Linked DNA regions of Homo sapiens: region 1 is linked to region 2. A link means that fine-mapping ties the variant in region 2 to the expression of a gene that starts in the linked region. Tissue or cell type: left ventricle. Region 2 holds a variant in brackets; the other region holds the start of a gene. All regions are shown on one strand. Distances are from middle to middle.

Region 1 (7,795 bases), 260 kb after region 2:
TGGGAGCACTATGGCCCTGCCCACCACCTGAGAAACCTGAATACATAACCAGGTGTCTCTACAGCAAGTTTGCATCTTTCCTATAGGACCACAGCTGATGCACTCTTGAAAGTTCCATTTCCTGGCTGGAGGCCAACCAACACAAAACCAGTGCACTAACAAAAACAAAACCAAGGACCCTCACAGAGTCCACCTCACCCCTCTGCTACCTCCACTGGAGCAGGCACTGGTATCCATGGCTAAGAGACCTGAAGATGGATCACATCATAGGACTCTTTACAGACACTCCCCAGTAGCAGCCTAGAGCCTCGTAGCTCTGCTGGGTGGCTAGACCCAGAAGAGCAAAAATAATCACTACAGTTTGGCTCTCAGGAAGCCCCACTCCTAGGGGAAGGGGGAGAACATCACATCAAGGGAGCACCCCTTGGGACAAAATAATCTGAACAGCAGCCCTTGAATCCCAGATCTTCCCTCTGACATAGTCTATCAAAATAAGAAGGAACCAGAAAAAAACAATTCTGGTAATATGACAAAACAAGGTTTTTTCACACCCCCAAGAGATCATATCAGCTTACCAGCAATGGATCCAAACTAAGACAAAATCTCTGAATTGCCAGAAAAAGTATTCAGAAGGTTGATTATTAAGCTAATCAAGGAGGCACCAGAGAAAGGTGAAGTCCAACTTAAAGAAATCAAAAACATGATACAGGATATGAAAGGAAAATTCTTCAGTGAAATAGATTGCACAAATAAAAAACAATCACAACTTCTGGAAACTGAACACACACTTACAGAAATGCAAAATACACTGGAAAGTCTCAGCAATAAAATCAAACAAGCAGAAGCAAGGCCTTAACAGCTCAAAGACAAGTCTTTCAAATTAACCCTACCCATCAAAGACAAAGCAAAATAATTTTTAAAAATAAACAAAGCCTCCAAAAATTTGGGACTACGTTATATGTCCAAAACTAAGAATAATTGGTGTTCCCAAGGAAAAAGAGAAATCTAAAATTTGGAAAACATATTTGAGGGAATAATCAAGAAAAACTTCCCTGGCCTTGCTGGAGATCTAGACATCCCAATAAAAGAAGCTCAAAGAACACCTGGGAAATTCATCACAAAAAGTTCATCACCTAGGCACATAGCCATCAGGTTATCTGAAGTCAAGATGAAGGAAAGAATCTTAAGAACTGTGAGGCAAAAGTGTCAGGTAACCTGTCAAGAAAAACCTATCAGATTAACAGCAGATTTCTCAGCAGAAACCCTACAAGTTAGAAGGGATTTGGGTCCTTTTTTTTTTTTTTTTTTTTGAGATAGAGTCTCACTCTGTTGCCCACACTGGAGTGCAGTGGCGCGATCCCAGCTCACTGCAACCTCTGCCTCCTGGGTTCAAGTGATTCTCCTGCCTCAGCCTCCTGAGTAGCTGGGACTACAGGGCACACCACCACACGCCTGGCTAATTTTTCTATTTTTAGTAGAGATGGGGTTTCACCATGTTGGCCAGGATGGTCTCGATCTCCTGACCTCGTGATCCACCCACCTCAGCTTCCCAAAGTGCTGGGATTACAGACGGAGCCACAGTGCCCAGCCTAGGGTCCTATTTTTAGCCTCCTTAAACAAAACAATGGTCAGCCAAGAATTTTGTATCCAGTGAAACTAACCTTCATCAATGAAGGAAAGATAGTCTTTTCCAGACAAACAAATGCTGAGAGAATTCACTACTACCAAGCCAGCACTAAAAGAACTGCTCAAAGCTCTAAATCTTGAAACAAATTCTCAAAATACACAAAAATAGAACCTCCTTAAAGCATAAATCTCACAGGATCTACATAACAAAAACTCAATTAAAAAAAAACAAGGTTATTCAGGCAACAAATAGCATGATGAGTAGACTAGTACCTCACATATCAATACTAATATTGAGTGTAAATGGCCCAAATGCTCTACTTAAAAGAAACAGAACAGCAGAATGGATAAGAAATTACCAACCAAATTTCTGCTGTCTTCAGGAGACTCACCTAACACATAAGGACTGACATGAACTTAAGGTAAGTGGAAAAAGATATTCTATGCAAATGGACACCAAAAGTGAGCAGGAGTAGCTGTTCTTATACCAGACATAACAACTTTAAAGCAACAGCAGTTTAAAAAGACAAAAAGGGACATTATATAATGATAAAAGGATTAGTCCAACAGAAAAATACTGCAATTCTAAATATATATGCACCTAACACTGAAACGCCCAAATTTATAAAACAATTACTATGCGATAAACAACAACACAATAATAGTGGGGGACTTTAATACTCCATGGACAGCACTAGACCGGTCATCAAGACAGAAAATCAACACAGAAACAATGGACCTAAACTATACCCTACAACAAATGGACTTAACAGATATTAACGAACATTCTACCCAACAATTGCAGAATATACATTCTATTCATCTGTACATAGAACATTCTCCAAGATAAACCATATGATAGGCCACAAAACAAGTCTCAGTAAATTTAAGAAAATCAAAATTATATCAAGTACTCTCTCAAACCACAATGGAAAAAAAATTGGAAGTCAACTCCAAAAGGAACCCTCAAAATCATGAAAATACATGGAAAATAAATAACCTACTCCTGAATAATTTTGGGGTCAACAATGAAATCAAGATGGAAATTTAAAAATTCTTTAAACTGAACAATAATAGTGACACAACCTATCAAAAACCCTAAGATACAGCAAAAGCAGTGCTAGGAGGAAAGTTTATAGCATCAAATGCCTATATCAAAAAGTCTGAAAGAGCAAAAATAGACAATCTAAGGTCACACCTCACAGAACTGGAGAAAGAACAATCAAAACTCAAACCCAGCAGAAGAAAAGAAATAACAAAGATCAGGGCAGAACTAAATGAAATTGAAACAAAAAAAATACAAAAAATAAATGAAATGAAAAACCTGGTTCTTTGAAGAGATAAATAAAATTGATGAACCATTAGTGAGATTAACGAAGTAAACAAGAGAGAAGATCCAAATAAACTCAATTAGAAATGAAACAGGAGCTATTACAAACTGATACCAGAGAAATACAAAAGATTATTCAAGACTTCCATGAATGCCTTTATATGCATAAACTAGAAAACCTAGAGGAGATGGATAAATTCCTGAAAATATACCACCCTCCTAGGTTAAACCAGGAAGATATAGAATCGCCGAACAGACCAATAACAAGCAGTGAGATTGAAATTGTAATTTTTTTTAATACCAACAAAAAAAAAGTCCAGGACCAGATGGATTTACAGTTGAATTCTATCACACATTCAAAGAAGAAGTGGTACCAATTCTATAGACACTATTCCACAAGATAGAGAAAGAGAGCATCCTCCCTAAATCACTCTGTGAAGCCAGTATCATCCTAATACCGAAACCAGGGAATGACATAACAAAAAAAGAAAACTACAGACCAACATCTTTGATGAACATAGATGCAAAAATCCTCAATCAAATACTAGTGAACTGAATCCAACAGCATATCAAAAAGATAATCCACCATAATCAAGTGGGATGCAGGGATGATTTAACATACCCAAGTCAATAAATGTGATACACCACATAAACAGAATTAAAAACAAAACCACATGATCATCTCAATAGCTGCAGAAAAAGCATTTAACAAAATCCAGCATCCCTTTATGATTAAAACTCTCATCAACAAAACTGGCACACCTTAAGGTAATAAAAGCCACATAACAATAAACCCACAGCCAACATTATACTGAAAGGGGAAAAGTAGAAAGCATTCTCCTTGAGAACTGGAACAAGAGAAGGATGCCCACTTTCACCACTTCTATTCAACATAGTACTGGAAGTCCTAGCCAGAGCAATCAGACAAAAGGAAGAAATAAAGGGCATTCAAATTGGTAAAAAGGAGGTCAAACTGTCACTGTTTGCTGATGATATGATCGTATACCTAGAAAAGCCTAAAGACTCATCCAAAAAGCTCCTACAGGATGCAAAATTAATATACACAAATAAGTAGCTCTGCTGTACACCAGCAGCAACCAAGCTGAGAATCAAATCAAGAACTCAACCCCTTTCAAAATAGAAAAAAAAAAAACTTAGGTATATACCTAAGATTTTGGGTGACGATAATGTGTCATTGTAGGTTCATTAAATGTAACAAGTGTTATACTCTGGTGGAGGATTTTGATAATCAGGGAAGCTGGAAGGGAGGGGTGATATATGGGAACTCCCTGAACTTTCTGCTTAATTTTTCTGTGAACTTGAAACTTCTCTAGAAAGATAAATTCTATCAGAAACATAAACAAAAAAGAACAGAGAATGAGAGTGGGGGAGATTTTTTACAAGAATGTATAGAGGTGTGACAAAGGATGACTAGATGGGAACTTTTAGATTCTGGAAGGGGACAGCAGTGCAGCAAAGCTTTCATATGGGTGTGAGCTGTCATGCACATGGCTCCTATCTGAAAATCTTGTTCTTCTAGAATCCAGGTCTGCTGGCCAACATCTCAGCAGTTTTCACCCTGCAGACTTAATTAGGCTTCCTCTTCCTTATGTCCCCTCCCTGAATATGGCATTTTGAAAGCCCAGTGTTGCCCAGGGGGCATCTCCTTTGTGTTTATGAGAGACCTGCATTCTCCCTGGCTCAGTTCTCTCAGGCTCTCCAGAGCTCAGGACCTCTGAGAAGAATGGAGCCCTCCTGGCTTCAGGAACTCATGGCTCACCCCTTCTTGCTGCTGATCCTCCTCTGCATGTCTCTGCTGCTGTTTCAGGTAATCAGGTTGTACCAGAGGAGGAGATGGATGATCAGAGCCCTGCACCTGTTTCCTGCACCCCCTGCCCACTGGTTCTATGGCCACAAGGAGGTAAGAGGAGAAAATTAGTTGGGGAGGTTAAGGGACAGAAAGATGAGGTATTAAAAAAAAACAGCACAGACTGGTGGGGCATTATGTAATATGCAAAATGCTTTCACACCAATCTCATTGTGATTTTTACAAAAATTCTATGATATGGGGAGGAAAGATATTGTTATTCCTGTTTTACAGATAAGAAAACTGAAGCCTAAAATAGAAATGCAACTTTCCTGTGCTACCCACCTCATAAATGACAGAAATGAAACTTGAACCCTGGTCTTCTGATTCAAGGCCAAGGTCTTTACTATTCTCAGGACTCTGGGTGTTCTAGAGAGAAATAGACCAAGCCAATTGTTAACAGGAACTATACCAAGATGCTACAGCTTCTAATGAAGCTGGAAATAGGAAAACATTTAGCAAATTAGAAAGGAAAGTTGAAAGATGAGCAGCAACCAAAAGGAGTAAAAGGCATGTGAGACTTCGCTGCTTTGGAGGCAGATAAAGCATGAGTGGGTATATCCAGAGCAAAGATGAGGTAGGGCATCAGTGGTTACTAACGGTTTACCTTGTGCCAGGAATTTTATGTTTATAATTTCACTTAATTTTCATGGCAGCTTTGTAAAATATATTTGGTCTTCCTATTATACACGTGAGGAAATCATGGCCCTGATGACCTAGATAATGAATAAGTGTCAGATTGGGATTTGAACTTAAATCTCCAAAGTTGACGCTGGAGTGAGAAGACCAATCGCTCAGCAACAGGTCCTGAGCACTTGCCCAGGGCCACGAAGATTCTGTGGAGGTGCTGGAGACACATGGAGAAGAAAACTTGCCTTCAACAGATGTGAACCTGTCTGATGGGGTGGTGTCCACAGATCCTCAACTTAGCACATGGTCCATCCGAGGGAAAGGGGTCCTCCTGGGGTGACAACCTTTACTAACCAGTCATGACTTATCTTATGACAGTTTTACCCAGTAAAGGAGTTTGAGGTGTATCATAAGCTGATGGAAAAATACCCATGTGCTGTTCCCTTGTGGGTTGGACCCTTTACGATGTTCTTCAGTGTCCATGACCCAGACTATGCCAAGATTCTCCTGAAAAGACAAGGTAAAAACCAAGAGGGGCTCACAGTACAGAGCAGCAACAAAGAGGGTCTCAGGGTGTCTGTGGCACTAGGGAAGGACAGGTTGAAGCATTTTTAAGGGAAATCCATCATTTGATATGTTGAAGGGAAGATTCCATGTCCTCCTCAACATCATAGTCAGGACTCTATTGAGGGCTGTTGTAGAGGATTCTCTGATCCATTTTCAAGCAATCTTCTCTCCCTACATGGCAAATTTTTTCTGATGCTTCCATCACATTTACTTACCTCAGACCCCCAGGACTACCACTTACCATCACTGTGAACATACAGTGGGTTGGGCATGCAGTGGTGGTTTGCTTACAATTGGCTTAACGCCAGTGCTGCACAGAGATGAGTGTTCCCCATAGATGCTTTGCCCACTAATGTTGCCTGTCCTCTGGGAATGGCCAGTGCCAGGTTGGAGGCTCTGGCAAGTGGACACCAGTTCTCCATCTGGTCCCTAGTGTGGGAATTCCGTGGAATTGCAGAGCTGCTTCTTGGCCGTGGCAAGATGTGTGTAGGATTCCCCCACTGGGCTTTCCTCAACTGCCTGTTGGCATATAAGGCTGGCCTTCGCCTCACTCTCCCAGCTACCTACATGAGTCATTCAGTTATAAAATGCCTCCATACCACTCTTGGTGCTTCTGCAAAATTTCAAGCAGCCTGTGGCTCTCTCATTTCACAGGGCACTCTGCCAGAATCACCATCTCAGCTTTCTTCCTGGTAATGGTGCAAGAAATGTCTGGCTATCCAGTTTCAAACTTTACTCTGCTCCCCTTTATGCTCTGCTCTCACCTTTGGACCTTTGCCCAAAAGGGATGAAAGAGGAAAGTGATTGTTTCTCCTTTGGAGTTATTTTCTCTTCTTTATCTACAAATTCTCTCTTCAGTGTGTTCACTCCCTTGAGAAGGGAGGCTTAGTTTCTGGCTGTTTTTCTTTTTTTGTGGTTGGTTGTAAGGGCATCTGGGCAGGCCATACAGGGAAAGCCATCCTTCCTGTTCATATTTTCTTCAGTCCCCATTGTCTTCAACTCACAACCTTAGCTCCTTCCCAGAGAAGCCAAGAATTTCTCTCCCTCTCTTGCTTTTTTTCTCTTACTGTTTTGTTTTCTTTTCCTTTGGTTTGTATTCCCTGCTGGTGCCTAAAATTGTCTCCTCCTCAGAGAAAAGGATAATTTTATGCCTTGAAGTGTGATAACTGTACAGTTACATGAGAAAAGAGCAGAATAATATACAGAGTATGGGATGTTAAGTTATTTATCTGCCACACATTAGTACTTCTTTTTGAGTCCCACTGCAGAAGCACGGTGGCCAAAAAAGGAGAGCTGAGAATCCTGCTCTTATTATTTCTGGCCAGACCCACCCAAATCATCTTATCCCCAGCTTTTTATTTTGAAAATTTTCAACCCTACAAGAGAAATTTTGAACACCCATTGTACCCTTCTCTAGTGTCATTAATTGATATCATATTCCCATATGTGCTTTTCTTTTAATTACATTCATTTTATTGTGGTAAAATATACATAAACTAAAAATTTACCATTTTAAATCACTTTTAAGTATACAATTTAATGGCATTAAATACATTTACATTGTTGTGCAACTATCACCGCCATCCATCTTCAGAACTTTTTCATCTTCCCAAACTGGAACTCTGTACACATTAAACTCTAACTCCCCATTTTCCCCTCCCCCCAGCCTCAGGCAACAACCATTCTACTTTCTGTCTTTTTAAATTTCCCTATTCTAGGTACCTCCATAAGTAGAACCATACAATATTGTCCTTTTGTAACTGGCTTATTTCATG
Region 2 (7,795 bases):
TGGTCAAGGGTAGCTTGTTTCTTGGACACTGGCCCACTGAGCTTCGGGTCAACTGGCTGATGGCTTGAGCAGGCTTGCTAACAAGGGCTGCAGAAAGAGACTAAGCCAGGATCCCTGGTCTCCCTTAACTCATGCTGGACTGTTCCCTTTGGTCTTTGTACCGCACGTTTCCACCTTTAAAGAGAGGTCAGGGTTCCACTAGGCAATGTTGAAATCCTTTTCCGATCTGATTCTTGGAGCAAAGCTTACTTTAGGCTCTTGAGAAGCAGAGAGGAAAGTGGTGACGTATGCTTGCTCTTCCCAATCCCTCCAGTGGTTTATTTCTGGTGAGGTCAACAAGGAGTGCCAATGTGAGGGTGGGAGGTGGGGCTGGGGAGCTGGGATCAGTGAATTATTTTCATACCCTGCTCTCTTCCTGTTTCCTTCCTTCTGGAGAAAAAACAAGCCGTCCCAGAACTTCCAGTCCTGTAAGTGTCCCAGCTCAGGCATTCTGAGGGCGAGTCTGAGGCATGCAGTTGTGTAATCCAGAGGAACTGTCCAGGCAGTCACGTGTACCCCACAGGGAGGATGCCTCAGCCCTCTTGAGGGGCTGCAGCTGCAATAGTGGGACCAGGTGCTGGGAGCTGTCCTCCTTCTTACCAGGCTCCCGGGGTAATCAAGGCAGGTGCCTGGCAGGTGCTTCTAGTTCTCTAGCTTTATTTAAAAGTTTGGCCATCGCTTGGGCTCATGCACATGTTTTTTATTTATCTTAGTTTTCTTTATTTCTTAAATAAATCTAAAGAGCTAGGAGAAAGCTGGGCACAGGGAGGCAGTGGCAAGCTGGCTGCGACCTCGATCAGGGCACAGGTTGTGAATGTGGTCAGCATGAGACCAGGGTCTACTGTCCCTTGTGGGGTTGCTGCAGAGGTGCACAAGCATAGCTGATAAGGAGGGAAGTGGGGCTTGGATGAACCAGATCAGCCAAAGGCTCCTTCCAATCCTAAGATCCTATGAGTCTGGCTTTTTTGTGACTTAAGCCTTTCCTTGACCCATCCAATTGGGCTTTCTGGACCTGGTAGGGATGGAGAGAAGGGGAATGGCCAGGTGACCAGGAAGTTGGCAAGGAAAACCCAGGAGGGCAGATGGAAAAATAAGACAGACACCAGGGAAAGGAGCACTTCCAGGGATACCAGCCAGGAGGGAGGCAGGCATACAAGAATGTTTCCCCTTGCCTGTGGGTGGAGATGATTTTTATCACTTTGTGTTCTTTTTGACATCGTGTACTCAAGGGCAGTGAAAACTCTTACAGCCCTGTTGGGTTGAACTCAGGATTCTGCGTTCAGAGGCAGTGAGGGAAGGGATCAATGGGATGATTACAGACGACTCCACAGAGGGCCTAGGAGGGGAAGAGCCCTAGAGAAGGCACAGACGGGTGGCTGGAGGCCAAAATAGGCCCAATCCCATGAGCCCTTGGAGATAGTGGCTTGGGCCAGAAAGGATCCCTGGGGGCTACATTATCAGATGCCTGTGTCCTTCTTTAAGAATGTTCCCTGGAAGATACAACATGGATGTCTTAGTCCTTTGTGTTGCTGTAAATGAATACCTGAGACTGGGTAAAAGGTTTATTTGGCTCACAGTTCCACAGGCTGTACAGGAGGCATGGTCAATATCTGCTTCTGGTGAAACTGCTATTCATGAGGAGGAGCTTTAGGAAACTGCTATTCATGAGGAAGAGCAGACATCACATGGCAAGAGAGGAGGAAAGGAGAAAGAGAGAGAGAGAGAGAGAGGTGCCAGACTCTTTTTAACAAACAGCTCTCAAATGGTATTTCTAGTTCTAGATCCCTGAGGAATCGCCACACTGACTTCCACAATGATTGAACTAGTTTACAGTCCCACCAACAGTGTAAAAGTGTTCCTATTTCTCCACATCCTCTCCAGCACCTGTTGTTTCCTGACTTTTTAATGATTGTCATTCTAACTGGTGTGAGATGGTATCTCATTGTGGTTTTGATTTGCATTTCTCTGATGGCCAGTGATGATGAGCATTTTTTCATGTGTTTTTTGGCTGCATAAATGTCTTCTTTTGAGAAGTGTCTGTTCATGTCCTTCGCCCACTTTTTGATGGGGTTGTTTGTTTTTTTCTTGTAAATTTGTTTGAGTTCATTGTAGATTCTGGATATTAGCCCTTTGTCAGATGAGTAGGTTGCGAAAATTTTCTCCCATTTTGTAGGTTGCCTGCAGCCCTCCCATTACTGGGTATATACCCAAAGGACTATAAATCATGCTGCTATAAAGACACATGCACACGTATGTTTATTGCGGCATTATTCACAATAGCAAAGACTTGGAACCAACCCAAAGGTCCAACAATGATAGACTGGATTAAGAAAATGGGGCACATATACACCATGGAATACTATGCAGCCATAAAAAATGATGAGTTCATGTCCTTTGTAGGGACATGGATGAAATTGGAAATCATCATTCTCAGTAAACTATCGCAAGAACAAAAAACCAAACACCGCATATTCTCACTCATAGGTGGGAATTGAACAATGAGATCACATGGACACAGGAAGGGGAATATCACACTCTGGGGACTGTGGTGGGGTGGGGGGAGGGGGGAGGGGTAGCATTGGGAGATATACATAATGCTAGATGACGAGTTAGTGGGTGCAGCGCACCAGCATGGCACATGTATACATATGTAACTAACCTGCACAATGTGCACATGTACCCTAAAACTTAAAGTATAATAAAAAAAACCCAAAAAACAAACAAAAAACAAAAAAATAAACAATATGCAAAATCCTTAAAAAAAAACAAAACAAAACAAAACAAAAAAAAGCTCTCATGGGAACTAAGAGAACTCACTCAATCCTGCCAGAATGGCCCCAGGGCCATTCATGAGGGATCCACCCCTATGATGCCAACACCTCCCATGAGGCCCCACCTCCAACATTGGAGATCAGATTTCAAAATGAGATTAGGAGGGGACAAATGTCCAAATTATTAAGGTTTGGACATTTTTCCCTTCCTAATTTGTTTGGATACTATCAGTGAATAGGTGGCAATTGTGAGAGAGAATTTTACGGAGAGAAAAAGCAGGCCCAGCACAGGCTCAGGCCTCAACAGGAATTTTATGGGACTGTAACCTAACCTCTCTATTCCTTAGGCTCCTCTTCCCTAAAATGGGACCACTTAGAGTTGTTGTGAGGATTCAATCAGGTCAAAATGTAAGGTGCTTAGAACAAGGTCTAGCACACAGCAAGTGCTTAATAAAGATTAGTCATTACCATGCCTCCCCACAAACTCCAGAGCTTGGACCTTTTCCAAGGCCCCTGGGCAGGCCACTAGGAGTGTTAAGTGTATCTTTGAAAGACTCCCACTAAATGGGGAAAAATAGTTAAATACATTATGGTACATCCTTATAGTGAAATACTACACAACTGTTAAAAATAGTAATGACAGTTAAGTGCACTAGCTTGGAAAGGAGGACAAGTTATGTTCAATGAAAAATGGCTGGTTTTGCAAAAATATTTATTGTATAACTTCATTTACTTAAAACACCTCTGGGTGAGTAAACGTGACTAGAAAAACCTCCAAAGGACATGTACCACCCTCTGGATGACCTATTCAAGCTCATCCCAGGTGACTGTCCCACCATGGGGCAGCTCCTGGAAGACACCATGATCTTTCCCAACCCAGCGCGTTTGTGCTTTCTGTTTTCTCACCTGGAATGCTTTTCCTTTATGCTTCACATGGCCAGAGACTCACCATCCTTCAAGTTTCACCTTAAATGTTGTCTCCAACAAGAAGCCTTCCAAGATTACCCTATCTAAGCAGGCCCTCCCTGTTAGTGTCTCTCATAGCACTGTTTTTATTCTGAGCACTCACTATTGTCTGTGATTATTTTACTTAATTGTCTACTTGTCTATTATCTGTCTTCTCCATAGAATGAAAGGGCAGAACTTGTCTGTCTCATTCCCCTGAGATGTCTAGAACAGAGCCCTGCACATGTAGGCCCTCAATAAAAATGTGTTGAACGATACGGCAGGGGTGGAATTGAGGCCATTTCTCTATTGCACAATGAGCAAATATTACCTATCTTTATAATTAAAGAGCTTTAATGTGGAGAAGAAAGCACTTTCTGGCTGCAGTGCAGTAGAGAGTTGGTGGCAGGTGCTAAATGGAAGCAGGTTGGCTACTTTGGGGATGTTGAGCTAACCCCGGTGTGAGAAGAGGGCGGCTTGGAATTAGAGCAGTGGTTGTGGGGCTGGAGAGGGGACTAAGCCCAGGGATGTTTAGGAGAAGAGGGTGCAGGAGAGGTAAGGAAGCAACCAGGGCCTGCCTGGGCAGCCTTCTCCCCTGCCCTCCCAGGGACTTGGGGCCTAGCTGGTGACAATGTGTTCCTGAGTGACCTTGGCCTTCTGTCATCATTTCAGATCCAGGAGACGGGGAGCCTGGACAAAGTGGTGTCCTGGGCCCACCAGTTCCCGTATGCCCACCCACTCTGGTTCGGACAGTTCATTGGCTTCCTGAACATCTATGAGCCTGACTATGCCAAAGCTGTGTACAGCCGTGGGGGTGAGGAGAGAGGATGGGGATCTCAGGAGAGGGTGGGGCTTCCTGAGAACAAAGGGCTCAGGGCATGATATGGGGAGGAAGCCTGGGCCTGTGTACTAAGTCTGCGGAGCTGAGGTTCCCACCCTACTCATAAATGAGCCTCCTCTAGGAACCCCGGGTCCCTGCTTGACCTGATTGTCTCCTCCTGCAGACCCTAAGGCCCCTGATGTGTATGACTTCTTCCTCCAGTGGATTGGTGAGTGAGCACCTGCCTTCCCTGCCCTGCCAACCTCAGACCCGTGGTGCTGGGTGACTAGGATCCTGGCCTGTCCCACTCAATTGGTTATCCCAGATGGCCTAGTTCTCGGGTGCCCATCCTAAGCTCAGCTGCTCAGTGGAGAGACAAGGGAGGAGCAGGAGAGCCCCCAGCTGTGGGGCCAAGGCATCTTCTCTGGCAGGGCCTGATTCTCTAGACAGGGCAAAGGCTTTGGAGAATGTGTGAGTGCGAAGAACAGTTTCCTGAAGGAGGTGGCACTAGAGTTGATCCAAAAGGAGATTTAAATAGGTAGTGCTGGCCAGGGCAAGGGCCTAAGGAAATGGTGTGGTGGTAGGACCA[C/T]GGCTGGTCACCAGAGGCTGTGAGGCTGTCGGGGTGGCTACAAGGCAGAGCCCAGCTTGGAGATGATGCTGGGCAGGGAGGACAGGCCAGCCTTGACTGCCAGGATAAGGAGGTGATTTGATGTTGAGAGTAGGTGGGAGTCATTGAGTATTTTATTTTATTTTATTTTACTTTTTCCTTTACAGAGGTACTCAAGTTAAAGCCATTGAGTATTCTTTAGCCAAGGCCATATGCTTCTCCAAAGCTCCTCTTTTACTCATGATCCTATGGTGTCTTCAGCGTTTTCCTGGGAGCTGAGAAAGGGCAGGGCCAAGAGGGAGAACACATTCCCAATCCTATTTACTCACCGAGTACCACTGGGAAGACTTTTTGCTTCTAACCCTCTTTTTAGTTATCAATGGGAGGATAAAATTAGAAGGCAGACAGAAAAGGGTTAGGAAAATGAAGAGGTGGTTTTGAAGACAGGAATGCATTTCCATTGCTGGGTGTGTTGGAGTGGGGTAGGAAGGGTCCCACCTGAGGCCATGAAGCACGAACACGGTGGGACATTCCCTAAGTCCTGAAGCTGTGGCCAGTCTCAGCAGCTGAGAGTCAAGGCTCAGCAGGCTCCCCCTCTGCTTGGCTGTCCCCAGGGGGATGCGTGTCCTTTGTCTCACATCTGGCAATGTCATCTGACACAAGTTCCTGGACCCAGGCTTTGTGGGTGCAGCTGAGATACAGAAACTGAGTTATCCTGTCCTAAGGAAGGAGCTCACTCAGCCAAGAACTGCTGCCACCTGTCTCCTGAGGTCCTGGTAGCCTAGGGTGAGGGCATGGAGGGCAATACTGGGTCGCTTAGTGGCCCACCCTTGGAGGGTTCCAGGCTCAGGGATGGAGTCGTGTAGGATGTGCTTAGCCCCAGGCTGCCAGGGCCTGGACTGACCAGCCCTCTCTCTCCCATCCCTTCCCCAGGGAGAGGCCTGCTGGTTCTTGAGGGGCCCAAGTGGTTGCAGCACCGCAAGCTGCTCACACCTGGCTTTCATTATGATGTGCTGAAGCCCTATGTGGCCGTGTTCACTGAGTCTACACGTATCATGCTGGTGAGCTCCCTGTGCCAGAGTACTGGAGGCTGTTGCCTGCTGGGCTAGCCCCTCTCCACCCTGATTTTGTCCTGGGGAGAGTAGGTGGTGCTCTGCAGTAAGGAGAATAGCTGAGCCCCAAGGCCTGTTCTGCCTGCAACAGCAGTGCCAAAGCCCTGCTCTACTGACATGTGCCGCAGGCTGCCACTGAGTCGGTGCTGAATCTCTAAGTGTCCTGGCAGCCCGATCCTTGTCTCCACCAGGAGACCCAGCCCTCTTTCCTCCCAGGCCAAAGGGTCTCTGTGAGAACTTAATAAGGCTCCTAGCATAGCAGGTTTGAGGACTGCCTATATTTGAGAGTATGGGGAAAGGCTTTCACATCTAAAACGTGTCTCCTCATTTTCTGTCTACCACAGCTGCCCAGAATTATGTCAATACAACTCATCTCTAAGAGGGATGTCAGAGGTCAGGGTTAGAGTCTTAGGGCTGGGTAATCCCTAAGTTATCCAGGCTAGTCTTTCCCCTTGTAGGAAACTCCCCTCCAGGATTACTTACATATACACCATGCGGGGGAGCTCACCACCTCTCAGCCATCCTACTCCCTTATAGGCTGCCCTGACTGGGAGAAAACGTCTGTGTGCTGTGCAAGATCTGCCTCCTGGTCCTGCCCTCTGAGCCTGAAGCCCAGAGGCTTCCAAACTTCTACCCACCCTATCCTGATATTCCAGCAGGATGGAGGGCAGGACAGGGACTGGGAGTGTGTGAAGGGGGCTTGGTGGTGGAGGATAGGCTACGGGTCCTGGAGGGCAGCTTGGGGCATCCAGCCCAACTAACCCCTGCATCGCCTCCTACACATTGCCTCCTATCCCTGGACTCCAGGACAAGTGGGAAGAGAAAGCTCGGGAGGGTAAGTCCTTTGACATCTTCTGCGATGTGGGTCACATGGCGCTGAACACACTCATGAAGTGCACCTTTGGAAGAGGAGACACCGGCCTGGGCCACAGGTCAGGAGCCACCTCGGGGCTGACCGCACTGTCTCCAAAGCCATCTTAGAGGGGAGAGTTGGCAGGGGTCCTGGGCTCTGATCTGAGAAGAGATAGGGTCCTGCCCCAGGGAGCCTTAGCTTGCGGGGAGACAGGACCTGCTCATGGTGGGGTAAACACCTGGCTTTAGCAAGGAGGCTTAAGGGCAGGGAGAAGAAGAGCAGGATGCTCTGTGGTTGGGGCTAGATTCCTGGAATGGAGTTTCTCTGGCTCTGCTCCTGGGCCAGTGTCTAAGCCAATCCCTCCTCCTACCCTCTGCTTAGCAGGGACAGCAGCTACTACCTTGCAGTCAGCGATCTCACTCTGTTGATGCAGCAGCGCCTTGTGTCCTTCCAGTACCATAATGACTTCATCTACTGGCTCACCCCACATGGCCGCCGCTTCCTGCGGGCCTGCCAGGTGGCCCATGACCATACAGGTGGGCCTTTCCCACAAGGCTCACCTCTAGGAAGCCTGGGTTCCTCCTCCTGGCCCCTCTATGCCCCCTCCCATTATAGGACCCCAGTTCCCCTTTGGACAAAAGATGGCTT

Which allele goes with the higher level. Alleles are on the strand shown, and positions count from the first base shown. SD is a standard deviation of normalised expression in the study named.
As copies of C replace T in region 2, the expression in left ventricle of the gene that starts at base 4,441 in region 1 goes up (small effect, 0.29 SD a copy in GTEx).

What was found. PIP is the estimated chance that this variant, and not a neighbour inherited with it, causes the effect.
Region 1: it holds the start of CYP4Z1, and the variant in region 2 is the best candidate, but not a certain one, in a credible set for the expression of CYP4Z1 in left ventricle (GTEx, PIP 0.55).

The regions. Positions count from the first base shown.
Region 1 is chr1:47,062,791-47,070,585 of GRCh38, forward strand. It overlaps CYP4Z1 (cytochrome P450 family 4 subfamily Z member 1), which reads left to right and starts at 4,441. Exons shown (of 12, transcript NM_178134.3): 1 at 4,441-4,877; 2 at 5,832-5,973. The coding sequence starts at 4,701.
Region 2 is chr1:46,806,381-46,814,175 of GRCh38, forward strand. CYP4B1 (cytochrome P450 family 4 subfamily B member 1) reads left to right here. Exons shown (of 12, transcript NM_001099772.2): 2 at 4,428-4,569; 3 at 4,760-4,804; 4 at 6,116-6,243; 5 at 7,102-7,226; 6 at 7,529-7,683. Among named protein-coding and RNA genes, the nearest start is that of CYP4B1, 11 kb to the left of the region's middle. The variant C/T (reference allele first, on the strand shown) is at 5,165.